2 separate regions of the Homo sapiens genome follow, and region 1 is linked to region 2. Evidence: fine-mapped expression QTL. A gene starts in region 2. The other region holds a variant in brackets. All regions are shown on one strand. Distances are from middle to middle. Region 1 overlaps FKRP (fukutin related protein). Region 2 holds the start of PNMA8A (PNMA family member 8A).

Region 1 (12,863 bases), 290 kb before region 2:
TCAGCCTCCCAAAGTGCTGGGATTACAGGAGTGAGCCACCACTGTGCCTGGCCATGCCCAGCTATTTTTAATTAGAAAAGGTTTTTGTTTTTGTTTTGTTTTGTTTTGTAAACAAGGGATCTCACTATGTTGCCCAGGCTGGTCTGGAACTCCCAGGCCAAAGTGTTGGGATTACAGGCATGCACCACTGCACCCAGCCACTGCTTTTTTTTTTTTTTTTTTTTTGAGATGAAGTCTCGCTCTTGTCCCCCAGGCTGGAGTGCAATGATGTGATCTCAGCTCACTGCAACCTCCACTTCCCGGGTTCAAGCGATTCTCCTGCCTCAGCCTCCCGAATAGCTGGGATTACAGGTGCCTGCCACCACGCCCGGCTAATTTTTGTATTTTTTTTTTTAGTAGAGATGGGGTTTCACCATGTTGGCCAGGATGGTCTCCAACTCCTGACCTCAGGTGATCCACCCACCTCAGCCTCCCAAGGTGCTGGGATTACAGGCATGAGCCACTGTGCCCAGTGTCAAACATTTTTTAAAACCAGTGGCTGGGTGGCTGGGCGCAGTGGCTCATGCCTGTAATCCCAGCACTTTGGGAGGCCGAAGCAGGTGGATCATCTCAGGTTAGTAGTTTGAGACCAGCTTGGCCAACATAGTGGAACCCCGTCTCTACTAAAAATGTAAAAAATTATCTGGACATTTGTAGTTTCAGCTACTCAGGAGCCTGAGGTGGGAGAATCGCTTGAGCCCAGGAGGCGGAGGTTGCAGTGAGCTGAGATCTTGCCACCGCACTCCAGCCTGGGCAACAGAGTGAGACTCTATCTCAAAGCTAACTAACAAACAGACAGTGGACTGTCATTAAAATGAAACCTGTGCAAATCTTGGGTGAAAGATGAAAACGGTGGGGTGGGGGCCCTCCTCTGCCACCTCCTCCAAATACTGGAACTTGGAATCTGGAACCCACCAATGTGGCCCCTGCACCCCGCAGGTGGAGAAACCCGGATGCCAGGCCAGGCCTGACGGGCGGTGATACATTAAGAGCCTCATTCACTGGGGAGCTTGAGCACTTTGGGTTCCATGGGGTTGGCTCCGGCCTGGCGGTGGGGATCCCTGGGCCTGCTGAGGGGTGCAGGAGCCCGGGTTGGTGCAAGGAGCTGGGCTCCAGTCACATACAGAACAAGCCACTTTATTTCCTTCCCCTGCTACGCCCTCCTTCTGCCCGTCATATCCCACATTCAAGCTACCAGAAATCTCAGTTTCTCTGCCCTCAAACCCCAAATCTGGCCCCTCTACACCTTCCACACTGGGTACCACCCTGGCCAGCTGCCATCATCTCCCACCTGAACTATTGCAATTGCCTTCACGCCGGGACTCCTGAGCCCCAACCTCTTCCGTCTGTTCCCCATATGGCCTCCAGAGGGCGCCTGTTTCCATCATGGCAGCTCGTGGCCCTCCGCAGCTCAGAACCCAGAGAAAAATCCAAGGTGCTCCCCATAGCCTCTGTAGGATGCGCCTTACTTCACCGACCTCACCTCTTCCCACTCTCCTCCTCCCTCTCTTACTCCAGCCTCTGCCATTCCTTGAACATGCCAGGCCTGCTGGTGCCTCAGGGCCTTTGCACAGGCTGTTCCTCTCTTGGCTGCTCTGCCCCCCAGATTTCCATTTGGCTCTTCCCACACCTCCCTCTCGACTTGGCTGCAATGTCACCTCAGTGAGCCTTCTCTGACCGCTTTATTTAATTCTACCACCCCTGCTTCCTGCCCCCACCCTCACCCACCCAACCCATACCCTATTCTACCCTTTTCTCTTTTTTTTTTTTTTTCTGAGACGGAGTCTCGCTCTGTCGCCCAGGCTGGAGTGCAGTGGCACGATCTCGGCTCATTGCAAGCTCCGCCTCCCGGGTTCACGCCATTCTCCTGCCTCAGCCTCCCGAGTAGCTGGGACTACAGGCGCCCGCCACCACACCCGGCTTTTTTTTTTTTTTTTTTTGTATTTTTAGTAGAGACGGGGGTTTCACCATGTTAGCCAGGATAGTCTCGATCTCCTGACCTCGTGATCTGCCCACCTCAGGCCTCCCAAAGTTCTGGGATTACAGGCGTGAGCCACCACGCCCAGCCCTTTTCCTCTTTTTTTTTTTTTTTTTTTTTTTTTTTATTAAGAGATGGGGTCTTGGGCAGACGCAGTGGCTCATGCCTGTAATCTGTGCACTTAGGGAGGCTGAGGCAGGCAGATCACTTGATGCCAGGAGTTCAAGACCGGCCTGGCCAACATGGCGAAACCCTGTCTCTACTACAAATACAAAAATTAGCCAGGTGTCGTGGTACACGCCTGTAATCCCAGCTCTTTAGGAGACCGAGACAGGTGGATCACTCGCTGTCAGGAGTTCGAGAGATGTGGCAAAAACCTGTCTCTACTAAAAATACAAAGATTAGCTGGGTGTAGTGGCGGGCGCCTGTTATCCCAGCTACTCGGGAGGCTGAGGCATGAGAATTGTTGAACCCGGGAGGCAGAGGTTGCAGTGAGCCAAGATCGCGCCACTGCACTCCAGCCTGGGAGACAGAGATAGACCCTGTCACAAACAAACAAACAAACAAACAAACAAACAGAGATGGGGTCTTGCTCTATGGCCCAGGCTGGCCAGGCTCATACTCCTGAGCTCAAGCAATCCTCCCACCTCGGCCTCCCAAAGTACTGGGATTACAGGCATAAGCCACCACGCCAGGCCTGCTCTACTTTTTTTTTTTTTTTTTAAAGACAGGGTCTTGCTCTGTTGCCCAGGCTGGAATGCAGTTTCATGATCACAGCTCATTTCAGCTTTGACCTCCCAGGCTCAAGTGACACTCCCACCTCAGCCTCCTAAGTAGCTGGGACTATAGGCCCATGCTACCCTGCCCAGCTATTTTTTTTTCTTAATTTTTGTTTTTTGTAGCGACACAGTCTCTGTATGTTGTCCAGGCTGGTTTTGAACTCCTGGGCTGAAAGGATCCTCCCACCTACGCCTCCCAAAGTGCTGGGATTATAGTTGTGAACCACCGTGCCCTGCCCTGTTCTCCTTTTTTAATAGCAACAGTCCCCTCCCAACAGACGATAGAATTCACTGGTTTATGATGTTTATTGTTTCCTGCCTGTCCCCACTGGGAAGGTCACTCTGTGGGGGAACCATCTTTGAATTGTTCACTGCTGTAGGCTCAGAGTCTAGCATAGGGTCCGGTGCATGCGTATAGCAGGAGCTCAATAAACACTCGTGGAATGGTGGAAGAGGCTGGTTCAGTCTCGACTCTGCTGCCTGGCAACTATGTGACCTTGGATGAGCACTGCCAGGTCTCACCCGCCGGTGACAATGGCTCTCTTATGCCTCACCCAAAGGCTGCTAGTGCAGGTTACGTAAGAGCAGAAGAAAAGGCACTTTGACGGTCACTCCCTGGGTCCCAGTTCCCAGCTCCCACCTTTCTCTCCCTTTCTCCATTGCCCCACCCACCCCTCTTGCCTCTTTGAAGGAGCTTGGCCCAGGAAGGAGGGCCCAGGCTGGCCCCGGATTAGGGTTGGTCCTGGGTTCTAGGCTCAGAGTGGCAGTATGGGGACAGAAAGGCAGAGGGCAGTGACTCAGTTTTGTCTCTCTTAGAGACAGGTCAATGTTCTTAGGCCTGTTGGATTCTGCCCCCATCTGCTCTTTTTGAGGTCAACTTTATTGAGGTATAATTTACATACAATAGGCCGGGCAAGGTGGCTCACACCTGTAATCCTAGCACTTTGGGAGGTCAAGGCAAATCATTTGAGGCCAGGAGTTCAAGACCAGCCTGGCCAACATGGTGAAACTCCATCTCCACTAAAAATACAAAAATTAACCAGGTGTGGTTGTGCACACCTGTAATCCCAGCTACTCAGGTGGCTGAGGCATGAGAATCACTTGAATCCAGAAGGTAGAGGTTGCAGTGAGCCAAGACTGCACCACTGCACTCTAGCCTGGGCAACAGAGCAAGGCTGGCTCCAAAAAAATTGTTTCATATGATAAATTGCACCCGTTAAAATCAATTAGGCCAGGCTCATGCCTGTAATTCCAGCACTTTGAGAGGCCGAGGCAGAAGGATCGCTTGAGCCCAGGAGTTTGAGACCAGCCTGAGCAATGCTGCGAGACCCTGTCTCAAAATAAATAAATAAATAAATAAAATACAGTTAAATGAGTTTTGACAGATGAATATACTGTGAAAAACCACTCCCATAATCAAGATACATGATATTCTCATCATCCCCAAATTTCCTCATGCTTCTTTGCAGTCTGCCCCTCTCTCCAGCTCCAGGCCCCGGTAACCACTGATCTGCTTTTGGTCACTATGAATTAGTTTTACCTCTTCTAGAATTTTACATTGGTGGAATCATATACTATGTAGCGTCTTGCATCTGGCTTTTTTTTATGTGTCATAATGCTTTTGGGATTTATTCTTATTTTTGCATGTATCAGTAGTTTGTTCTTTCTTTTCTTTTCTTTTTTTTTTTTTGAGATGGAGTTTCACTCTTGTTGCCCAGACTGGAGTGCAATGGCACAATCTCGGCTCACTACAACCTCCGCCTCCCGAGTTCAAGTGATTCTCCTGCCTTGGCCTCCCAAGTGGCTGGGATTACAGGCATGTGCCACCATGCCCAGCTAATTTTGTATTTTTAGTAGAGACAGGGTTTTGCCATGTTGGTCAGGCTGGTCTTGAACTCCCGACCTCAGGTGATCGGCCCGCCTCGACCTCCCAAAGTGCTGGGATTACAGGCGTGAGCCACCACGTCCGGCCCAGTTCTTTCCTTTTTTAAAAAACTTGCTAAGGAGTATTATGTTGTCTGAGTGTACCACAGTTTGCTTATCCACCCACCTGTTGATTTACATCTGATGGTTTCCAGGTTGGGGCTATTGTGCATAAAGGTGCATTTGTAGACAGGTTTTTTATTTTTTATTTACCTTATTTTATTTTTGAGACAGAATCTTGCTCTGTTGCCCAGGCTGGAGTGCAGTGGTGCAATCTCGGCTCACTGCAACCTCCACCTCCCAGGTTCAAGCAATTCTCCTGCCTCAGCTTCCTGAGTAGCTGGGATTACAGGCACCCACCATCACGCCCGGCTAATTTTTGTATTTTTAGTAGGGATGGGGTTTCACCATGTTGTTCAGGCTGGTCTTGAACTCCTGACCTCAAGTAATCCGCCCTCTTCGGCCTCCCAAAGTGCTGGGATTACAGGTGTGAGCCGCCACACCTGGCTAATTTTTGTATTTTTAGTAGAGACGTGGTTTCACCATGTTGACTGGGCTGGTCTCAAACTCCTGACCTCAAGTGATCTGCCCGCCTCAGCCTCCCAAAGTGCTGGGATTACAGGCATGAGCCACTCGCCCCTCCTAAATTTTTTTGGTAGAGACAGGGTCTCAACATATTACCCTGGGTGGCCTCCACCTCCTGGGCTCATGTGATCCTCCAGCCTTGGTCTTCCAAAGCGTTGGGATTACAGGCATTAGCCACCACACCTGGCTAATGTAGACAGGTCTTTACATGCCACTATTGTTCATAGCAAATATTTTGTAACATGTAGGGCTGATAGACAAAATATTTACTGCTTGGCAAAGTCATCAGTCCATCCAACATCCGGGATATGGGTCCCTCTTATCTCCCACTATACCCAGTTTAACCCCTGGACTTCTGGGCCAGAGGGCAGCCCAGGGGATCCCCAGGGAGAGCTAGGAGGATACTAATAGTCAGGGGGTTCATGGCAGTGACCGTTTATGAATGAGTAAATAATCCATAATTTAGTGTTTTGCTGTCTTAACCACTGGCGTGGCCATACCAGGGCGTGTGCTGGCTTGAATGTCAGTTCTGGGAAAGTTCTCTCTGTTCTCCTGAAATGAAGTTCATAGACAGTATAACCCACTGGCACATGATTTAACATGATTTAAGAAAATCCTACTTTGGGAGGCCAAGGTGGGCAGATCACTCGAGTCCAGGAATTTGAGACCAGCCTGAGCAACATGGTGAAACCCCATCTCTACTTAAAATACACACACACACACACACACACACACACACACACGTATTTTTAGTAGAGATGGGGTTTCACCATGTTGGCCAGGCTGGTCTCGAACTCCTGACCTCAAGTAATCCATCCGCCTTGGCCTCCCAAACTGCTGGCATTACAGGCGTGCGACACCGCACCTAGCTAATTTTTGTATTTTTAGTAGAGACATTATATATATAAATATATTTATATATATATATATATAAAAGCTGGGTGTGGTAGTACTTATCTGTAGTCCCAGCTACTCGGGAGGCTGAGGTGGGAGAATCGCCTGAGCCTGGGAAGTTGAGGCTGCAGTGAGCCAAGACTGTGCCACTGCACTGCAGCCTGGGTGACAGAGTGAGACCCTGTCTCAGAAACAACAACAACAGCAGCAGCAACAAAAACGATCCTTGATTGCCCTAAATGTAATAAAAAGGAGAAATAAGAACATAGTAACTTACAATAAGCATTTCATTATGCGGATGTGTGGAGCCAGTCCCCTAGAACCCAAGGAGGTAGGCAGATGTTTATGCCTGTAATATAGACAGTTCCAACACATTGAAAACACGTGGACTGGTGTCCAATTACCAAGAGCCATGTGCAATGTGAGTTTTTTCACATGGTGGACAACCTTTGGCCAAGTTTTGAACAAAACACGATACAAGCTTCCCTCATTTTTTGTGGTAGTTGCACTTCCTGGAAGATTCCGAGGCTATTTAAAAACAAAAAGGACTTTGTACGTACAAGAGAGAGATTTTTGGCCAGGGTTTTCACCTCCAAGTAAGGCTAAAATTTAGTTGGTCTGAACTAGTATGGAAATACTGTTCTTTCTTGTTTGTTTTTGAGACAGAGTCTCGCTCTGTCACCCAGGCTGGAGTGCAGTGGCATGATCTTGGCTCACTGCAACCTCCGCCTCCTGGGTTCAAGCGATTCTCCTGCCTCAGCCTCCTGAGTAGCTGGGACTACAGGCGCCCACCACCATGCCCGGCTAGTTTTTGTATTTTTAGTAGAGACAGGGTTTCACCATATTGGCCAGGCTGGTCTTGAACTCCTGACCTTGTGATCCACCCACCTCGGCCTCCCAAAGTGCTAGGATTACAGGCGTGAGTCACCATACTTGGCCAATACTGGTTGTTAAAATACTGAAATACTTCTGACTGGATAATAATAGTACAAGAGTAGTTGAGAAAGCACTGAAATTCAATACATATTTGAATAAAAATGAATTAGTTCAAGTTAATTGTGACAGATCTTTGTCATATCATAACTTAGGTGATAATAAGGATTTTTGTTTTTTTGAGACAGGGTCTCACTCTGTTGCCCAAGCTGGAATGCAGTGACATGATCATGGCTCACTGTAGCCTTGACCTCCTGGGCTCAGGTGATCCTCCCACCTCAGCATCCTGAGTAGCTGGGACTGCAGGGGTGCACCACCACGCCCAGCTAATTGCTGTATTTTTAGTAGAGACATGGTTTTGCCTTGTTGGCCAGGCTGGTCTTGAACTCCTGGCTTCAAGTGATCTGCCCGCCTCAGCCTCCCAAAGTGGTGGGATTACAGGCATGAGCCACCCCGCCTGGCCCCTAGTCTGGTCTTGAACTCCTGGGCTCAAGCAATTCACCTGCCTCGGCCTTCCAAAGTGCTGGGATTAATGGTGTAAACCACCACGCCCTGCTCAATTTTTGAAATGTTTTGTAGAGATGAGGGTCTCTCTATGTTGCCCAGGCTGGTCTCGAATTCCTGGCTTCAAGCCATCCTCCTGTCTTGGCCTCCCAAGGTGCTGGGATTACACTATGCCTGGCCTAAAATATTTTAAAAATTTGATGCATACATTGACATATACTAATTTATATTACAGTACCAGTGGCAAAACATTTTGAATATTACCCTTCCTTCGTGAATGTCCAATGAGACATCTGGAAGCTGCATGAGACAAGGGATGATGCTGTACTGTGTGGAGATTCCTGAATATTACAAGACATCTGCATCCCTGGACCACGTCTGCCAAGAGCCAAGAGCAGCTTCCAGTCATGATGATAATGCAAATCATCCCCATGCATTCCAGAATCCTCCCTGTGGACCTGCCAAGTCTCTTTGTGAACCATTTTTGGGTTCAGTGGTTAAA[A/T]GCAGGGGTTGGGTTACAAGAAGTCAGGCTTTGGATGTCTGAGCCTCAGGAGACTCGGCCAAACAGTAATCTTCTCTTGCTGGTCTATGAAGCCTCCTCCTCCCAGGAATGTACAATTGTGAAATATTACCAATCTCCCCAGTTTACAGGTTCAGAGAGGCAGCGACTTGTCTGAGAGTACAAAGAAACCAAGTGGCCAAGCCAGGATTCAAACCCAGCCAGACTCTGGGCCCCTTTACCGCGAACACACTCCTGTGGGAGGAGCGATCTCATTGCTTCCACTTCCCAAATGCAAGGTGGGGGCGCAGAGACAGAGTCAATAGAGGCCCTGGGAGAAGGTGGCAGCACTGGGAAACCCGGTCCTCTCCAACCTCAAGCCCATGTCTTTTCTTTTTTTCTTTTTTTTTGTGGGGGGATGGGATAATGCTCTGTTGCCGAGGCTGGAGTGCAGAGGTGCAATCAGAGCTCACTGCAGTCTTGATCTCCTAGGCTTAAGCAATCCTCCTGCCTCAGCCTCCCCAGTAGCTAGGACTACAGGTGCATGCCATTATGCCTGGCTGATATGGTTTGGCTGTGTTTCCACCCAAATCTCATCTCGAATTGTAGTTCTGATAATCCCCATGTGTCGTGGGAGGGACTGGGTGCGAGGTAATTGAATCATGGGGGCAGTTACCCCCATGCTATTCTCGTGATAGTGAGTTCTCATGAGATCTAATGGTTTTATAAGGAACTTTCCCCTTTTGCTTGGAACTTCTTCTTCCTGCCATCACAAGATGTGTTTGCTTCCCCTTCTGCCATGATTGTAAGTTTCATGAGGCCTCCCCAGCCGTGCTGAACTGTGGGTCGATTAAACCTTTCCTCCTTTATAAATTACCCAGTCTCAGGTAGGTCTTTATTAGTAGCATGAGAAGGGACTAAAACAGTGGCTATTTTTTTATTATTTTGTAGAGACAGGGGATCTCGCTATGTTGCCCAGGCTGATCTTGAACTCTTGGCCTTAAAGGATCCTCCAATTTTGGCTTCCGAAAGTACCGGGATTACAGGCATGAGCCACTGTGCCCAGTCCTTGCTTATTTTTAACATTTTGCCTCTTATTTATTATTTTATTTTTTTGAGATGGAGTCTTGCTCTGTTGCTCAGGCTGGAGGGCGGTGGCACAATCTTGGCTCACTGCAAGCTCCGCCTCCCGGGTTCATGCCATTCTCCTGCCTCAGCCTCCTGAGTAGCTGGGACTACAGGTGCCCGCCACCATGTCCAGCTAATTTTTTGTATTTTTAGTAGAGACGGAGTTTCACTGTGTTAGCCAGGATGGTCTCGATCTCTTGACCTTGTGATCCGTCCGCCTTGGGCTCCCAAAGTGTTGGGATTATAGGCGTGAGCCACCATGCCTGGCTTTATTTATTATTTTTAATTGACAAGAGTCTTGCTCTATTGCTCAGGCTGGTCTCGAACTCCCGAGCTCAAGTGTTCCTCCTGTCTCAGCCTCCCAAAAGTGTTGGGATCACAGGCGTGAGCCACCACGCCCGGCCAGCTTTTTTTTTTTTTTTTTAACCCGTGGTCTTGAATGCTGGGTGCTCACACCTGGGTGTGCAAAAGTCATTGGGATGAGGCAAGAAACATAAAAAAAACCCTATTCATATTCATAATTTTAAAATGGAATAATTTAAGCTTTATTACTAACATACAGATAATAGTATCTGTATATATTTATAAATAAATATACACATATTGGGAATACATGCCCAAATACCATTTATTCTTAGGTGCATAATCAAATAAGGAAGGCTGCCATTGCTTTCACCTGCTAAGTGGGTCTCCAAGCCCCTCTTGGGGACCATGACTAGAGAGGGGCATAGTGGGTAAGACAATTGTGGGCTCCAGAGCCTGACCACCTGGGTTCAAGCCCCCGATCTGCCCCTTCCTAAGCTGCCTGACCTTGAGCAAGTGACTTCACGATTCTGGCCTCAGCTTTTTCATCTGTGTAATGAAAATAATAGCAGCTGTCACTTCAGAGGGCTGAGGTGAGGGACGCATTAGTTGATCCAGGTGAAACACTGAGAATGGTGCCTGGTACCCAGTAGGTGCTCAGTGAGTGTGAGCTATGGTTATTGTCTACACTGCCGTGCAAGTGGGGAATTAGGTGCAGACAGCTGAAATAATGAGGTATTAGTCATGAGTGGAGCTGCGATTCAGAAGTCGGTTCTTTTTCTTTTTTAAAAATAGAGACGGGGTCTTGGCATGTTGCCGAGGCTGGTCTCAGACTCCTGGGCTCAAGCGATCCTCCCACCTCGGCCTCCCAAAGTGCTGGGATTACAGGCGTGAGCCCCCGCGCCCGGCCCAGCACCCGGTTCTCGACCACAGCCGCACCTCGGAGCTCTGAGCATTTCCTCCTCTGCAAGACTGAAATACTTCTATTCAGTCTTGAATAGAACAGTTAAGAGTAGCATGCAGGTCACAGGGCTCTCCCAGGAGGGAAGGAGGTCGCAGTCCAAAAGAAGGGGAGGTGGTCACTGCTGTCCGCCTCCCACAGGGGCTTGGAGAGAAGTCCAAAGGCTCAAGAGAGTAGATGGCTATGGAACACAGGCCCTGGGCGTACTGTCGCCCGGGCAGCCACAGTGGGCCACCAGGAGCGGGACCGGCGCGCCCTCTAGTGGCGGAAGCAACCCCTGCAGCCAAGGGTCCCGCATCCTGGAAGCAACTGAGGCACAGAGAGACTGCGACGCCCCCCCAGGCCCACCTGGCTCCGAAGCGATAGAGCCAGGATTTGAATCTCGCCAGTCTGGCTCCAGAGCCTGCACTGTTTCCAAAACTCTGCCCCTGCCCTAGAGCGCAGGGCTCTCGGAATCTTGGGCAGAACACTTTTTTCGGGTCTGGGGCTGTGCTGGGCCCTGCGGGACGGCGTGACATCCCCGTCTCCCTCCATGACTGAGATGACCCAGGATGTCCCCACGCATATCCACGGCTCCCAGTGGGCATGACCATTTGATAAATCTGGAGGTCGCTTCCCATCCTCGTCCTGGTGCTCTCCTCCTGCCAATGCCAGCCTTCTCTCATGCTCTCCTTAGAATTTCTTTCTTGGTCAGTTTCCCCCTTCCCCTCTCCGCGACATCCCTCCACCCCTCACCGCTCACACAGAGCTTCTCCACATCCAGACAGACCCCCGAAAAACAAAGGCGAGGTTATCAGGGCTTCAGCCGCTTCCCGTCAGACTCAGCAGTGCCGGGTTGGGGTACTGGGGGTTCTCGATGACCCCGGGCCCGAACTTGAGCTCCAGGAAGCGGCGGTAGTTGTTAGGCGCCTGCGCCACGAAGCCGGCAAAGGGCAGGGGCACCAGCGGCTGCAGGAAGTGCTCGGGAAACTCCACATCCTGCCGGTGGTCCAGCCACGTGTCCTTGGTCATGACGCCATTGCGGGGGTAGAAGGGCCACAGGTCCACGTGCAAGTGGTTGCTTTCGCTGTACTGCACGCGGAAAAAGTCGCCCTCGACCGCCTTCTCCCATACGAAGCCGCGCTCATCCACCACCGAGCCGGCCTCTGCCCCCCGCAGCTGCTCGCAGTTGCCCACGTCCTCCAAGTAGATGCCCAGGTCCACGTCGTAGTCCCATGGGATGATGTCCCCGTGGCGGGCGGCCCCCAGCAGTGAGCCGCCCTCGAGCCAGTAGCGCACGCCCGCAGCCTCCAGCACGCCCACCACATAGCGGGCGGTCTCGCGCAGCGCGCGCAGGCAGCAGGGGGGCGTCCAGCGCTCCTCGTAGAGGTAGGCGGGCGTGTCGCCCACCACGGTTCCGAAGCAGCGCGTGGTCTCCTTGTTGCAGCCGAACCACTCCAGCCGCCCGCCTTCCCAGCTCACTAGGCGGATGCCCAGCGCGCGGAGCAGCGCCGCCCGCCGAGCGCGTCCCTCGCGCTCAGCCTTCCAGCGCGCGTGGGCCGTGGCCAGCGGGGGCTGGCGCGCCGCGGCGAAGGTCAAGTCCAGCAGCTGCACCGCCCAGCCGCGAAGGGCGGTCTGCAGAAAGAGGCTGGTGCCCACCGGCCGGGCCAGGGGCGCCGAGAGGTTGAAGAGGTCGCGGGCGCGCAGGAGCACCACAGCATCTCCGTCCAGGGCGTCGCAGCGGGGCGCGGCGGGGGCTGCGCCATAGCGGGCGGTCCACTCTCGCAGGCTGACGTTCAGGGCCAGGCACCTGGCAGGGTTGGCCGTGGCAACCGGGGCGGCCACCAGACGTGCGCTTCCTGCGCGGAGCGCCTCCACCATGCGCTCCAGCAGGCCAGGTGCCTCAGCCCGCGCCCCATCAGGTACTAGGGCCACAAACTCGGTGGCCACGTAGGTCTCCGGGCGCGAGGCTGCGGCTGGCCGGTCCAGGGCGGGCTGGAGCAGCGCCAGACGCACGTTGGGGATGCGGGGCAGGGCCAGGGGCGGGTAGGGGAGCGTGTCGGCTGCCACCACCACGGGCTGGGCTGGGTCTTGCTGCAGGAAGGAGTCTACCAGCTCGGGCACCGCGTTGTCAAATGCCTCGAACTCCCGCACCAGGACGGTGACACGGGGGCCGGCAGCAGAGGCACGACGGGGCCCCCGGGCCCGGGAATTCCTAGGCTGGTGCTGCAGCCACGAGACATAGAAGAGGACCAGAAGGTTGAGGGTGATGGCGGCCGCCAGGGCAGCCTGGCAGCGGGTGAGCCGCATGGGGCCGAAGTCTGGGGCTAGCTGGGCCTCCGGGGCATCCTGGGGGAG
Region 2 (16,843 bases):
GGGAGGGCAGGTGTCTCCCTATGTTGCCTAGCCTTGAACTCTTGGCCTCAAGCAATCCTCCCATCTCGGGCTATTTTATTTTATTTCATTTATTTTATTTTATTTTTTGAGACAGAGTCTTGCTCTGTCACCCACGCTGGAGTACAGTGGTGTGATCTTGGCTCACTGCAACCTCCACCTCCCGGGTTCAAACGATTCTCCTGAGTCTCCTGAGTAGTTGGGATTACATGCATGGGCCACCATGCCTAGCTAATTTTTGCATTTTTAGTAGAGACGGGGTTTCACCATGTTGGGCAGGCTAATCTCGAACTCCTGACCTCAAGTGATCTGCCCGCCTCAGCCTCCCAAAGTGCTGGGATTACAGGCGTGAGCCACTGCAACCAGCTGACACTGTAACTTTTGAAAAGCATCATATTTTATTTATTTTTTGTTTTTTGAGACGGAGTCTCACTCCGTTGCCCAAGCTGGAGTGCAGTGGCACAATCTTGGCTCACTGCAAGCTTCGCCTCCCGGGTTCACGCCATTCTCCTGCCTCAGCCTCCCGAAGAGCTGGGACTACAGGCGCCTGCCACCACATCCGGCTACATTTTTGTATTTTTTTTTTAGTAGAGACAGGGTTTCACCATGTTAGCCAGGATGGTTTCGATCTCCTGACCTCGTGATCCACCCGCCTCAGCCTCCCAAAGTGCTGGGATTACAGGGGTGAGCCACCGCGCCCGGCCATATTTTCAAACAAGTTAAGAAGTCACACCTGAATCCAAGCAACATAGATGTCTGTAGGGCATCAGCCACCAGCCCTTCTCAGCTCTTCATTTGAAAGACCGGAAAATAGAGAACGACCTGCATAGCCATCCATAGGGGACTCGGTAATTAACCTATGGCAGTGGCTGTCACATGTGTTTGATCATGATCCGTGATAAGAAATACATTTTGCTGTGACCTAGGAGACACACACACACGTAGATATAATAGAAAATAAAGCCAGGCATGGTAGCTCACACCTGTAATCCCAGCACTTTGGGAGGCCGAGGCGGGCAGATCACCTGAGGTCAGGAGTTTGAGACCAGCCTGGTCAACATGGTGAAACCCTGCCTCTGCTAAAAATACAAAAATTAGCCGGGCATGGTGGCATGCACCTGTAATCCTCGCTGAGATCGCACCACTGCACTCCAGCCTGAGTGACAGAGCAAGATTCTGCCTCAATTAAAAAGAAAAGAAAAGAAAAGAAAAAAAATAATTTAAAAAAGGAAACTCTGCAGCAAGAAGGGGCTCTCACAGAACAAATTGGACAGAGCCAGCCAGGTTGAGTCACAGAACCACCATGATGGGTTGTTGCAACTGACTCAGGAGGAAACATCTAGGCGGGATCCCAGAGCCCCCTGGACTTTCTTTGGGTTCAGTGTTTATGGAAACTCTGTGGGTTCTCACTGAACATACACAGCAGGGCAAAATAAAAACTCAAAGGTGAAACACAGCGGAAGAGGATGGAAGGAGAACCCTAAACTGGAAGTGCAGAGATGGAGGGGAGGGTTGGGGCTGCAGGGATGCTTTGTCATGGAAACCACAGTGCCAGTTGTTGCCTTGGAAACCACAGCACATCGTGTTGTCATGGAAACCACTGTAATGATTCCTGTTAAGGGTGCTTGAACTATTTTTAAATCAGCTAGCAATCACTGTGGCTCTTTAATGGGAGAGCAGGCAGGCAGCTGACTCCACTTCACACACACACGCACACACACATATACACACATAGTTGTACCTTTATAATATTTAGGCTGAGGCAAAATTAATTGCAGTTTTTGCCATTGAAAGTAATGGCAAAAACATGGCCAGATGCAATGAAATGGCTCATGCCTGTAATCCCAGCACTTTGGGAGGCTGAGGCGGGAGGATCACTTGAGCTCAGGAGTTTGAGAGCCTGGCCAACATGATGAAACCCTATCTCTACTAAAAGTACAAAAATTAGCCAGGTGTGGTGGTGCACGCCTGTAGTCCCAGCTACTTGAGAGGCTGAGGCAGGAGAATTGCTTGAACCTGGGAGGCAGAGGTTGCAGTGCGCCACTGTACTCCAGCCTAGGAGACAGAGCAAGACTCTGTCTCAAAAAAAAAAAAAAAAAAAAAAAAAAAAAAAAAAAAACCAGGTGTAGTGGCTCATGCCTGTCATCCCAGCACTTTGGGAGGCTGAGGCGGGTGAATCACCTGAGGTCGGGAGTTCGAGACCAGCCTGACTAACATGGAGAAACCCTGTCTCTACTAAAGATGCAAAATTAGCCAGGTGTGGTGGCACATGCCTGTAGTCCCAGCTACCTGGGAGGCTGAGTCAAGAGGACTGCCTGAGCCCAGGAGATGAAGGCTGCGGTGAGCTGTGATTAAGCCACTGCACTCCAGCCTGGGTGACAGAGTGAGACCCCATCTCATAAAATAAAATAAAATAAAATAAAATAAAATAAAATAAAATAAAATAAAAATTGTGGAATATTCCAAACTCAAAGTCAAGAATAGAGAATTGACTGGGCACGGTGGCTCATGCCTATAATTCCAGAACTTTGGGAGGCTGAGACAGGAGTTGGAGACCATCTTACCCAACATAGTGATACCCTGGCCCTACAAAAAAATTTTAAAAATTAGCTGGGCGTGGTGGTGCATGCCTGTGGTCCCAGCTACTCAGGAGGCTGAGGCAGGAGGCTCGCTTGTGCCCAGGAGGTTGAGTCTGTAGTGAGTTGTGATCCTGCCACTGCACTGTAGCCTGGGAGATAGAGCAAGATCCTGTCTCAAGAAGAAAAAAAGCTGGGTGTGGTGGCTCATGCCTGTAATCCTAGCACTTTGGGAGGCCGAGGCGGGCGGATCACGGGGTCAGAAGATCGAGACCATCCTGGCTAACATGGTGAAACCTCATCTCTACTAAAAATACAAAAAATTAGCCGGGCGTGGTGGCGGGCACCTGTAGTCTCAGCTATTTGGGAGGCTGAGGCAGGAGAATGGCGTGAACCCGGGAGGTGGAGCTTACAGTGAGCCGAGATCGCGCCACTGCAAGCCAGCCTGGGTGACAGAGCGAGACTCCGTCTTAAAACAAAACAAAACAAAACAAAGTACAAAAATTTGCCAGGCATAGTGGCGGGTCCCTGTAATCCCAGCTACTTGAGAGGTTGAGGCAGGAGAACTGCTTGAACCCAGGAGGCAGAGGCTGCAGTGAGCCGAGGTCGCGCCACTGCACTCCAGCCTGGGTGACAAAGTGAGACTCAGTCTCGAAAAAAAAAGAATTGATATTTATATAACTAATCCTCATGCATCCCGTGCCATTCTTCATCAAATCTTAATACTATGCTAAATTTATTTACACCTTTTTTTTTTTTTTTTTTTTTTTTTTAGCATTATTGGCTGGACTCAGCAGCTCATGTCTGTAATCCCAGCACTTTGGGAGGCCGAGGCAGGCGGATCACTTGAGGTCAGCAGTTTGAGACCAGCCTGGGCAACATGGGGAAACCCCTTCTCTACTAAAAATACAAAAATTAGCTCAGCATGGTGGCACGTGCCTGTAATCACGGCTACTCAGGAGGCTAAGGTAGGAGAATCGTTTGAACCCTGCAGGTGGAGGCTGAGTGCGCCACTGCACTCCAGCCTGGGGGACAGAGTAAGACTCTGTCTCAGAAAAAAAAAAAAAAAGAGATTTATATAATTAACCCTTATGTATCCCTTGCCATTCTTTATTAAATCTTAATACTATGCTAAATTTATTTACACATCTTTAAACAAAATTATTGTTTAAATAGGCTGTGTCCTACCTCCCATATGACTTGCCCTCTTCTTCTCCCCAGAGATAGTCACTTGGAGGATTATTGCATTTAAAAATCCAGTATTTATCAAAACTCAGTGTCTGTCATTCCCTTGCATGCCAAAATAAATAACTGAAAAAGAGAGAAGAAAAAACAGACAGTGTCTAATTCTAACTGAGTCACTGTGTGACTCAGTTTCCACTGCAGCAACTTTGTCTGCAGCCTGGATCACAAACAAGCTCCCGCATTTGTAAAACTACTTGGCAAACATAGCAAAAGCCTCTGAGATTCAGCAAACATCCATTCCATTTCATTTTAGTTATGATGTTTTACAATCCACTGCTGGTATAAATTTACTTTTTATCCTGTCTAGATTGACGATTTTCTTCTTCTTCTTTTATTTTTTTATTATTATTTTTTTTTGGTCTGACAAATCCTTAGCAGAATTTTCAAACACACTGAGATGTTTTGTTTTCTCTTTGAAGAGAAAGTTCCAGAACTTTGATTCTGTGCTCATGCACTGGGGTTGGGTGGCATTCCTGAAGGGGCAGCCAGGACTGTTAGGAATATTGGCTCTGCAGAAAGCTGAAACCTGGCTTTTGAGGCAAAGCTGAAGGCATCTCTCTCCCTCCCTTGCCCCCCATCTCTCCATTCTGTAACGCATTATTTGTTCACTTTTGTAGTAAAATACACATAACATAAAATTCACTATTTTAACCTATATTTATTTTTCAAAAAATAATTTACTTTTTTTTTTTGTTTGTGAGACGGAGTTTCACTCTTGTTGCCCAGGCTGGAGTGCAATGGCACAATCTCAGCTCACCGCAACCTCCGCCTCCTGGGTTCAAGCGATTCTCCTGCCTTAGCCTCCCAAGTACCTGGGATTACAGGCATGCACCACTATGCCCGGCTAATTTTTGTATTAGTAGTAGACACAGGGTTTCTCCATGTTGGTCAGGCTGGTCTTGAACCCCTGATCTCAGGTGAGCTGCCTGCCTTGGCCTCCCACAGTGCTGGGATTACAGGCGTGAGCCATCGTGCCCAGCCCGTCTTCATTTTTCTACCTTCACTCCTACTAGCGTTCCTGGACCCAGATGTCCTGGATGCAGAGGTCCCTCCTGTTACGGTGGTAGACGCATCTCATTCCCATGGGGGTCCCAAATACTTCTCTAGAGTAACTTTTTTTTTTTTTTTTTTTTTTGAGACGGAGTCTTGCTCTGTCGCCCAGGCTAGAGTGCAGTGGCGTGATCTCGGCTCACTGCAAGCTCTGCCTCCCGAGTTCACGCCATTCTCCTGCCTCAGCCTCCTGAGTAGCTGGGACTACAGGCGCCCGCCACCACGCCCGGCTAATTTTTGTTGTTGTTGTTGTATTTTTAGTAGAGACAGGGTTTCACCATGTTAGCCAGGGTGGTCTCGATCTCCTGACCCACGATCCGCCCGCCTTGGCCTCCCAAAGTGCTGGGATTACAGGCGTGAGCCCGCGCCGGCCTCTCTTTCTTTTTTTGAGACGAAGTCTCGCTCTTGTCCCCCAGGCTGGAATGCCATGGTGCAGCCTCGGCTCACCATGTTGGCCAGGCCATTCTCCTGCCTCAGCCTCCCGAGTAGCTGCGATTACAGGAGCTTGCCACCAGGCCCGGCTAATTTTTTTGGATTTTTAGTAGAGACGGGGTTTCACCATGTTAGCCAGGATGGTCTCGATCTCCTGACGTCCAGATCCACCCGCCTCAACCTCCCAAAGGGTGGGATTACAGACGTGAGCCACCGCGCCCAGCCTCACAGGAACACTCTTGTTCTTGCATCCTTGAGCTTCCAAATAAGAAGTTCAACGATCTACCCTCTGGTTTTCATGCTGTGAGGAAGCCCAAGCCACATCAGTGCTTCCATCAACATTTCCCAGCTGAGCCCAGCTTTCAAAGGATTTCAGCCCAGGCACCAGACATGTGAGTGAAGAAACTCCCAGATGATTCTAGCTCTCAGTCATTTGAGTCACCCCCAACTGTCACGGGTACGACTAGGTGCGGCGGGTGTTGTGGGCAGTAAAGGTATTTACCAAGACAGTTGTAGGTAAAGAAAGGCAGATTTATTAGAGAAGATATGAAAATACATTGCACGGTTGCAATGGGCAGCACAGCAGAGAAGGGGGCTGTCTGCAAAAAGGCAGGGACTGGAAGTTTCATAGGGGTATGCTGGAGGGGGCTACATGCAGAAAGAGGTCATTGTGCCCATGGGGGATTGTGATTAGCCATCTCTCAGAAAAATTGTTCATTGTTCTTCCCAACCTGGAATGCTGTGAACCCGGGAGGTGGGGCTTGCAGTGAGCCGAGATTGCGCCACTGCACTCCAGCCTGGGCGACAGAGCGAGACTCTGTCTCAAAAAAGAAAAAAAAAAAGTGTTCCAGTGAATGAGGAAGAAGCTGCGTGCCCTTCTGTAACATAGTCTGAGAAGCCACATAGCTTCCTTTCCACTAAACTCCATTGGTTAAAGTAGTCACAAGTCTGCTCAGATTCACGAGGAGGGGACACAGATCGTCACTTCTCAATAGAAGTGTCGGAGAATTTATGGCTATGTTTTTAAACCACTGCCTAAAAATATACACTCATTCTTCCACTGATATGTAGAATTTCAACATATAAAGCACATGAGATTTAAAGACTTTAATCATAGCTAGAGTGTTTATTGGAATATTCGGTGTGAATTATGTGAATAATCAGAGGTTAACGATTTGAATGACACAACTTTTTAGCACAAAATATGATGGAAACTTGGGCAATCACACAAGTATTGATGATGCCCAAATTTAGGAATGCCAGAGATGACAGTGAAATGAACATTTGGCTATTTGGCCTTGCAAATGTCAGTTTCAAAAATGAACCCAAAGAACAGATTTTGGTTGAATACCAAGGCCCAAATTGTACTTCCATGCATCTTTCAGATGAGATCCCCCCGAATCTTCAAAACTTCCAAATCAGGAAGATTTTTTATTAGAATTCCTATTACAGAGAAAAGAAATAAGCTCAGCGGGGTCAAATTATTTCTCTAAGATCACACAGCCAGGAAGGGACATTGGTAGGTGGATCAGTGAGGGACTGGCAAAAAAAAAAAAAAAAAAACAGATGGCCAGTCCAACCGAGTCTCATAGGAGTGCTTAATTAATTAGTTTATTTTTTTTGAGACAGGGTCTCCTGGGTTCAAGCAATCCTCCCACCTCAGCCTCCCGAATAGCTGAGACCACAGGTGACCCCTATCACACCTGGCTAATTTTTTGCGTTTTTGGTAGGGACGGGGTTTTGCCATGTTGCCCAGGATGGTCTCGAACTCCCCAGCTCAAGTGATCCGCCCTCCTCAGCCTCCCAAAGTGTTGGGATTACATGCGTGAGCCACAGCACTGGGCATTAATAAACTATTAACAAAGTTCTTGCTCATGGGCAGCAAGGTTGAGGTAGGAGGCCCAGGGGACTCCACTGAGGATCACATTGAAGACTGGCCAAAACCTGGAAAAGGCACCGAAAGCCTCTCTCCATAAGACATGCCTGCCAGCACCATGACAGTTTACCATTGCCATGGCAACACCCATAAGTTACTGCCAATTTGCTAATTCTGAAAACCCACCCCTTAATTAGCACGTCATTAAAAGTGGGTATAAATGTGACTGCAGCCTTGCCCCGAGGTGCTATTCTCAGCACACTGCCTAGAGGGTAGCCCTCCTTGTTAGGTTTTGGAGGGAAGGTGAGGGTTAAAGACACACAGACAGAAGGCGGCTCAACAGCAACTCAGGTATACTGCAGACACCTGTGGAAGTGGGTAACCAGCCTAATGCCAGAGCCCACTGCTGCTTATAGGCTGGGGGTACTTATAGTTATGGGTGGGAGGGGTCTGAGCAGTATGGTTTGCTGCCCAGCAGGATGTTGATAAGATGGTTCCATGATGAGGCGGTTCTGGCCCTTGTTCTGGTGGAATGTGGTGTTCTCTGCACTTTCTCCCAGCAGAATATGATAGGGATGTTTCTTCAGTTGGGCCTTTGCACGATAGGGTATGATAATGTTTCTTTAGCTGGGCCTTTGTCCGCCTTGTGGTCAGGTGATTAGGCAGGATGTTTCTCATTGGCCCGAACCCCCGTGGAATATTTCACTTTGACCAAGATCTGCAAAATAGTCAGGGCTTACAAAATGGTTGCAGTTTGGACTAACACTTCTCTGTAGGGGCAGTCACTGAGCTGTAACATTGTCCCCTGCCTGGAGGATGCCAAGAACCTGCCCTGAATCACGTTGAGGAAACAAGAAAAGGCGAGGCATTATCCTCATGCTAGAAGGGGTCGGGGAGGAGACTAAGAAATTTCTAGAAGTTTCTGGAAATTCCTGGAAGAACCCAGCAGCTTGTAAGAGAGAAGGCTACAAGCCCAACAGGAACTGCACCTGCTGTTGGAGGAACCCAAGAAGATTAAAGCCTCGTTTTCCTCCTTTCTTGATTTCTAGTGTCTCCCAAGAGTTGCGTTGGGTGAATCCAACAGGTGGGGCAGAGGATAATACAGTCAGTGGGTGCAGCCATAGGTGTTGGCGCTTCTCATCGACCTAACCCCCGTTCGCGAGGCCCACTTGGGTTGAAAGAGGGCCTCCGTGGAGGCGCCACCGGAGTGTATCCAGACCCGCTTGCTCTGCGACCTGAACAGGCCACTCTTGCACCCGGCTCCCTAGGTCCAATTGCAGCGCCGGCGCGCCGGCCGGGCTCAGCCCTAGCAACCCACGCCCGGTTGCCATGGAGACGTCGGCACCTGCGCAGCCCAAGACCCCCGAGCGGCGGTGCGGGAGCCAGTGCGCAGGCGCGCGCTGCGACGCCAACCTCGGCTTCTCGCCGCTAACGGCATCGAGTCTGGACGCCCCGTGACCCGCCTGGGCCGGAGCGGGGGCGGACGGCGCCTTCTTGGCCCTTTCTGCCTCTAGCAGCGGCGCCGGGGTAGCCGGAGCCAGCGACTGGGAAACGGCTGCATTCCACTGCGTCTCCTTGGCCTGGCTGGGCGGTCGGAGGCTGATCTGCCAAGTAAGTCCCGGCTGGGCAGGCGGAGCGTCAGGCCCGGGGGAGGGTCCTAGGGCCTTTTGCTGCAGATTCAGGGACACGTGTGAGCACCGGGGCCTGGGTTGGGGAGGAGGGTGTTGGGAAAGCGCCAGGCCTCCTGCAGGCCAGCCGCGGAGGGGGCAGCTAGGATCTGTGAGCTTGGTCATCTTCCTGGGAACGTGACCTCGCTCCCTTGTCACCTTGCAGGATTACTGTTTGGAGACCGCTGCAGCCCACGTCCACCTGATAGACTATTTACTACACATAGTAGGTTCAGAGCCGCTAAATGTCCAAGACCATGGCGATGAACCTTCTGGAGGATTGGTGCAGGGGAATGGAAGTGGACATCCACAGGTCCTTGTTGGTCACAGGCATCCCAGAGGACTGTGGGCAGGCAGAAATTGAGGAGACCTTGAATGGGGTCCTCTCCCCACTGGGCCCGTACCGCGTGCTCAACAAGATTTTTGTGAGGGAAGAGAATGTTAAAGCTGCCCTCATTGAGGTTGGTGAAGGTGTGAATCTGAGCACCATCCCCCGTGAATTCCCAGGAAGGGGTGGTGTCTGGAGAGTGGTCTGTAGAGACCCTACCCAGGATGCCGAGTTTTTAAAAAATCTGAATGAATTCCTGGATGCCGAGGGGCGCACCTGGGAGGATGTGGTCCGCCTGCTCCAGCTCAACCACCCCACCCTGTCCCAGAACCAGCATCAGCCCCCAGAGAACTGGGCAGAAGCTCTGGGGGTGCTTCTGGGAGCAGTGGTGCAGATCATCTTCTGCATGGATGCCGAGATCCGCAGCCGGGAGGAAGCCAGGGCCCAGGAGGCCGCTGAATTCGAGGAGATGGCAGCCTGGGCTTTAGCAGCAGGGAGGAAGGTGAAGAAAGAACCGGGGCTTGCAGCAGAGGTGGGTTCTGCCTTAAAGGCAGAGACCCCCAACAACTGGAATGCCACGGAAGACCAGCATGAGCCTACCAAACCTTTGGTTCGCAGGGCTGGAGCTAAGTCTCGCTCCAGGAGAAAGAAGCAGAAGAAGAACTCCAGGCAGGAAGCAGTGCCCTGGAAAAAACCCAAAGGCATCAATTCCAACAGCACAGCTAACTTGGAGGATCCTGAGGTGGGTGATGCTGAAAGCATGGCGATCTCAGAGCCGATCAAGGGCAGCAGAAAGCCCTGTGTGAATAAGGAGGAGTTGGCTTTGAAGAAGCCCATGGCGAAATGTGCCTGGAAGGGTCCCAGAGAGCCACCTCAGGATGCCCGGGCAGAAGCCGAGAGCCCAGGAGGCGCCTCTGAGTCAGACCAAGATGGTGGCCATGAAAGCCCACCAAAGAAGAAGGCCGTGGCCTGGGTGTCTGCCAAGAACCCCGCTCCCATGAGGAAGAAGAAGAAGGTGAGCTTGGGCCCTGTCTCCTACGTCTTGGTTGACTCAGAAGATGGCAGGAAGAAGCCGGTGATGCCAAAGAAAGGGCCAGGCTCAAGAAGGGAGGCATCAGATCAGAAGGCCCCTCGGGGCCAGCAGCCTGCCGAGGCAACAGCCTCAACCTCTAGGGGTCCGAAGGCCAAGCCAGAAGGCTCTCCTCGGCGTGCCACCAATGGTGAGAATGATAGCAGAAGTGACTGGGCTCGTGCCAGCAAGTGGATGAGGCAGGAGGAGCAGGAGTGGCAGGTGGGGCAGAGGAGCCCGAGGAGGTGGTGGGTCAAGCGGGTGATGAGGAGGACCCTGGTGCATGGCAGGAGGTGGATGACACACCAGTTGAGGAGGGTAAGAGCCCAGACCGCCCTTCCAGGAGCCCCTGAAGGCCGATGCTGGAGACATCTGGTGGGCAGGAGGTGGCAGAGGAAACCCACAATGAGTGTCACTGTGGTCATTTGCCACTCCATCTGACCCATCTTCCTTGATGAGAATTTAATGGTTTGGGCCCAGGCTTGGTGGCTCATGCCTGTAATCCCAGCACTTTGGGAAGCCAAGGTGGGCAGATCGCCTGAGGTCAGGAGTTCAAGACCAGCCTGGCCAACATGGTGAAACCCCGTCTCTACTAAAAATACAAAAAATTAGCCGGGTGTGGTGCCACATACCTGTAATCCCAGCTACTCGGGAGGCTGAGGCAGGAGAATCTCTTGAACCCGGGAGGTGGAGGTTGCAGTGAGCCTAGATTGTGCCACTGCCCTCCAGCCTGGGTGACGAGAGTGAGACTCTTGTCTCCAAAAAAAAAAAAAAGAATTTAATGATTTGGGAGGCCAAGGCAGACAGATCACCTGAGGTCAGGAGTTCGAGACCAGCCTGGCCAACATGGTGAAACCCCATCTCTACTAAAAATACAAAAATTAGCTGGGCATGGTGGTTTGTGCCTGTAATCCCAGCTACTGGGGAGGCCAAGGCCTGGGATTGGCCTCCAGACATCTGCCCACCAGATGTCTCCAGCATCGGCCTTCAGGGGCTCCTGGAAGGGCGGTCTGGGCTCTTACCCTCCCTGAACCTGGGAGGTGGAGGTTGCAGGGAGCCAAGATCACACTGCTGCACTCCAGCCTGGGCGATAGAGTGAAACCCTGTTCCCCCCTCCCCCCAAAAAAAATATTAATACTTTGGAGTTATGGTGTTTGCAGGGTATGTGGCTTTAAGGGTGAAGTTTTCTAGAGACCTGGCTGGGGAATAGAAATGTTCAGGGACCCAGAAATTTCTTGGAAGTAATGCATTTCCTAATGACACCTCTCTGCTTCCCTTCTTGATCTGTTCTCTCATTTATTTGCAGAATCCAGAAAGGTTTGATCTGGGGGACCACCCATACTGAGGAGTTGAAAGAACAAGGAAGAAGTACCAAGTCAACCAAGTTCTCTCTTGTCACTGAATAAGACTTTGGACTCTCTTAGGGCCCCTGTTGATAGAGATCTGGCCCTGAGGTAAACGATAGGTGAGGTCTTGGGTGGGAGGGAGTTGGGGAAGGGAGGTGGATCTCTATGCCCTTTTCTCTACCAGGCCTGCCGTTTCACCGCCTTCTCTACTCACCTTCTCTTCGGAGGCAGGAGAGTTGGTAAGAGGATTGGGAAAATTCTAGAACATTCATTCCCCTTTATGCATGAGCAGGGTCACTGTTACACTCATCCATGTTCAGCTTTTCTCCCCCACGCCTTGCTCCCTCCTCGGAATGGTCAGCGACCTCTGCAGGCCCTGGCATTTGGAAGAGCTGGGTGGCCCTGCCATATTCTTCCTCCCGCCTTCCTCTCGTGTAACCAGCGGGGTAAGTTAAGCCAGGACCTTCGCTGCAAACCTGGTTTTATTGCTCCTTCAGTCTCCAGCTTCCATCCTCCAGTTATCTAGCCAGGAGGTCCCAAGAGTTAGTTTTAGGGAAAAAGAATGTCTGCCTAGACCTCAAAGTCTTTGAGTTTTAGAGTCTGTTAGTAAAAATGGCACTTTGATTCCCATTTGGGATGAGCCCTCTCAGGAATCCTGTGGGGAAGGGGGGTGATTATAGGGAAGGACGCAGGCATTCCTAGGTCCCCAGCTCTAATTCCATCCATCTACCCAACTGTCACCATCTTTGCACCAAACTGTCACCATCTTTGCAGCAGAAGGTCACTACTCACATTATAGTAAGAGGGGAAAAAAATCTTTTAAAACTTGGCTGTTGGCCGGGCACGGTGGCTCACGCCTGTAATCCCAGCACTTTGGGAGGCTGAGGCAGGTCGATCACGAGGTCAGGCGTTTAAGACCAGCTTGACCAACATGGTGAAACCCCATCTCTACAAAAATTAGCTGGGCGTGGTGGCGCGCGCCTGTAATCCCAGCTACTCAGGAGGCTGAGGCAGATGAATTGCTTGAATCCAGGAGGCAGAGGTTGCAATGAGCCGAGATTGTGCCACGGCACTCCAGCCTGGGCAGCAGAGTGAGACTCTCTCTCAAAAAAACAAAACTTGGCTGTTAATGTCTGCCCTCTGAATTCAGACACACTATATTAGACCAGACCACCATGTGTCATTGTGTGTGTGTGTGTGTGTGTTTGCGTGCGCATGTGTAGAGGAGAGAGCAGGGTCCCTGAGATAATGGTTTCCAAACTGTATCGTAGCCGTCCACAAAGATGTAATCCAAATCTATTTTTCTCACGTGTTTAAAAAACTGAAAAGTGACTACTCAGATATGTTGGAAGTCACATCGAAGACTATCAGAATATTACCTTGTGTTCATAGGTTAACTTGTTTTTGTACACGTCTTAGTTATTTCAGGCATCTCTTTGCTTAAAATTGAGTTTCTTGTAAATGTGACTGATGAGCGAGGTTAGAAGTGGAAGAAATTCCTGTGCATGTTCTATAATCTGACACCCTGAAAGCAAGTTTCCTTTCGTCATTCACATGCTCTTGTTCTGCCGTGACTGTTCAGGTGTATGGTAGTAAGTAAATGTATTAACATGGTGAACAGTAGTAATATTCTATCATAGAGTATTAGCCCTTGCAAGTTTTCAGGGCGTCTTTTCCGACTTCAGTTTTTGTGATAAAGAATGTGAACAGTTGTTAGATGTTCTCAGTGATTCAACTTTAAAACAAATTTCTCGTGATGATTCATTTCAAAATCCTGAGTGAGTCTGACTGAAAAATACGAGAGAAAAGAGAGTGGTTTCCGTTTGCAGCTACACAGCTGTGTGCATCGACGTTCTCCTGGGGTGTGTGCCAAGCGAAACCCAGGGGTGAATTGGATTCTTGAAGAGACCAAAGCCTGTAACTGTCCAGCTTCTAATTTCAAAACGGGTCCATTAGGGCTTCGTTGTGTTAACAAGTTGACACCATGACTAGTAAATGTAAACGTGTATGTATAAAATAAAGTTTAGCAAATTAAGTGTCCTGTTAAGTCTCTTGTAGGTGAGGATTGCATGGACTATTAAATTTGAGGAAAGGGTTCCCCTTTCCTCAAACAGTGCCCCCAGCCAGATGTGACTGGTTATCAGATACGGGTTCAAGCTTTGAGAATTGTTAATGATCCATGAGAGAAGAAGCCGTTTGTCCTCTTTGCGAATGGCTTTCCACTGATGTGGAAGGATGTCCCACAGATCTTGGGGTTTCTAGAATAGGTATCTGGTGACGCAAATTACCTCAAAGTACCAGTTTATTTTTTTATAAACAGCTGGAAAATGAAAACCTTTCCCTCCCTTCCTATTCCCTCACACAGAAGCCAAGGTCTTTTTTTTTTTTTTTTTTTGAGATGGAGTTTCGCTCTGTCACCCAGGTGGGAGTGCAGTGGCACAGTCTCAGCCCACTGCAGCCTCTACCTCCTGGGCTCAAGTGATCTGCCCACCTCGGCCTCCCAAAGCGTTGGGATTACAGGTGTAAGCCACCATGCCAAGCCAGAAGCTGAGGTCTTTTAGCTAAAAATATAGTTTTCTTCTGGCCCTCCCCTGCCCCTCCCCAGGAACTCCTGAACCAGGGTGGCCACTACATCAGTCACTTGGAATCTGTTCAAGGTACCATTTCGTGGCTCTACCTGCTGATTCAGGATCTCTTCGGGGTTGTACATAGTTATCTGCGTCTTAAACAGTTTCTCCTGAGAATTTTTTTTTTTTTTTTTTGAGACGGAGTCTCGCTCTGTCTCCTAGGCTGGAGTGCAGTATCATGATCTCAGCTCACTGCAACCTCTGCCTCCCGGGTTCAAGCGATTCTCCTGCCTCAGCCTCCCAAGTAGCTGGGACTACAGGGGTGCGCCACCACGCCCAGCTAATATTTTTGTATTTTTTTTAGTAGAGATGGAGTTTCACCATGTTGGCCAGGATGGCCTCGATCTCTGATCTCTTGACCTCGTGATCCGCCCACCTCAGCCTCCCAAAGTGCTGGGATGACAGGCGTGAGCCACCACGCCCAGCCAAGAATTCTATTAATAATACAGGTTGGAGAGCTTCAGGTGGAATAATTCAGACTTGGGGAAACGGAAGTGTCCTTAGGGGTCCAGGTTGAGGTTTTGTGAAAGTGAATGGAGATTATGAGGAAAGATGCGAAAGAGACCAAAAGGGAAGCTGGGATTTGAGGACGCGGAGCTCGTTAGGAACTGCCGTGTACTCATAGAAGCATCTGGATGAAGCTCTATTTATTGGGTGCCCCCACACCCCCACAATGGGAAAAGCCCTATTTGACCAAGATGTTTAAGTACCTCCCACAATAATAGTCACTCCTACTGGTTACACCCAGGCTGTCAGTAAAGTATGAAAGGCCTACGTGCCCTAAAAATGGGGGGAATCCAAGGTTGGGGCACATGAAAGCTCTCTTCAAAGAAACCTCATCGCCCCGGGTGGAGGTGTTCTGTTCAGGGGTGCGTCTGGGGAGGCGCTGGCCCGGAGTGTTTGCAGGAAGATGGAGAGCTGTGGATGCCACCAGCAGGGCTCGAGGGCAAAGTGTCCTGGTTGCCCATGCTGCCATTCAAGCAAGGTTCGTTGAGAATCTGCTGTACGACAGCCAGGAGCAAGACAGAGTCCTGGCTTCCTGGAGCCTGACGTTTGAGTGAGGACAGACCTTATATAGACACAGGTGGAGGGGTGGGGAGCTCTGCCGTGAAAAATATAACAGGAAGATAGGCAGGCAAGGTGAGTGTGCAGAAACGGCTGGCTGTCGCTTACAATGGTTGGGGGAGCCTCTCTGGGAACTGGATGTCTGAACAGACCTGAAGGGGGTGAGGGGTGAGACAAGCAGTTGGCCAAGAACGGCCTCCTGGGCAGAGGGAACAGTCATCGTGGAGGGAGGCTCTAATCTGTTTCAGAAAGTGAGTAAGGCTGGGCGCAGTGGCTCACACCTGTAATCCCAGCACTTTGGGAGGCCAAGGCGGGCAGATCACCTGAGGTCAGGAGTTCAAGACCAGCCTGGCCAACATGGTGAAACCCCATCTCTACTAAAAATACAAAAAAATTAGCCAGGTGTGATGGCGCGTGCCTGTGGTCCCAGCTACTTGGGAGGCTGAGGCAGGAGAATTGCTTGAACCCAGGAGGTTGAGACTGCAGTGAGCTGAGATCGCACCACTGCACTCCAGCCTGGGCGACAGAGCAAGACTCTGTCTCAAAAAAATAAAAATAAAAAAGCAAGGAGGAGGTGAGGAGCAAGAGGGCAGGGGGCTTTGGAGGCTGGTGTGCAAAGCCCCACAGGTGCGGCCAGGATGGATTCCAGCTTTAATCTGAGAGATGGGAGCCATGGGAGGGTGCTGAACACAGCGTCAGGATCCTACATAGGTTGTTTCCAGGCTCCCCCTGGAAGCCTGGTGGGGAACAGACTGCAGAGGGTGAGGTGGCAGCTGGGAGCCTAGTGGGGAGGTGACAGTAGCTGGACCCAGGAGGCCCAAGAAAAAGCTGCCCATTTGGGGATCTGGTTAGCAGAGCTGCCAAGGAGAAAGAAGTGGGTTGTGTTGATTTACTTATTCATTTATTCCTTTTTTTTACATTTTCATTTTTTAGTTAAAATAAAACATTTATATACAGTGAAATGGACAGATCTTAAGTGAACGGTCTGATAAGGATAAGTTTGGACATAGGCAGGCACCTGTGTAACCCACCCCTGCGACAAGTTACAGAACAATATCATCATCCTAGAAAGCCTCCCTGTGCCCCTTCCCAGTCGGTCCCCGCCGCAGCTCTCAGAGGTGAGCACTGTAATGATTTTTCCAGCCAAAGCTCAGTGTGTCTGTCCCAGGAGTGCTGTAAGTGGAGTCATACAGCATATGGTTTTTTTGGTGTCTGGCTTCTTTTCCTCAGCATAGTGTTTTTGTTTGTTTTGTTTTTGTTTTTGTTTTTTAGGGAGTTTCACTCTTTTTGCCCAGGCTGGAGTGCAATGGCGCCATCTCGGCTCACTGCAACCTCCGCCTCCCGGGTTCAAGTGATTCTCCTGCCTCAGCCTCCCGAGTAGCTGGGATTACAGGTGCCCACCACCACGCCTGGCTAATTTTGTAGTTTTAGTAGAGACAGAGTTTCTCCATGTTGGCCAGGCTGGTCTCAAACTCCTGACCTCAGGTGACCCGCCCACCTCAGCCTCCCAAAGTGCTGGGATTACAGGCGTGAGCCACCACGCC

The links. PIP is the estimated chance that this variant, and not a neighbour inherited with it, causes the effect.
Region 1: its variant is fine-mapped to the expression of PNMA8A in lung (TOPMed, PIP above 0.99).

What each region holds. Positions count from the first base shown.
Region 1 is chr19:46,755,403-46,768,265 of GRCh38, reverse strand. FKRP (fukutin related protein) reads right to left here. Exons shown (of 4, transcript NM_024301.5): 4 at 9,691-12,854. The coding sequence starts at 12,815. The coding sequence ends at 11,328. Among named protein-coding and RNA genes, the nearest start is that of STRN4, 15 kb to the right of the region's middle. RefSeq lists a silencer at 6,520-6,814. The variant A/T (reference allele first, on the strand shown) is at 8,138.
Region 2 is chr19:46,463,302-46,480,144 of GRCh38, reverse strand. PNMA8A (PNMA family member 8A) reads left to right here and starts at 8,582. Exons shown (of 3, transcript NM_018215.4): 1 at 8,582-8,808; 2 at 9,031-10,412; 3 at 11,568-13,642. The coding sequence starts at 9,110. The coding sequence ends at 11,584.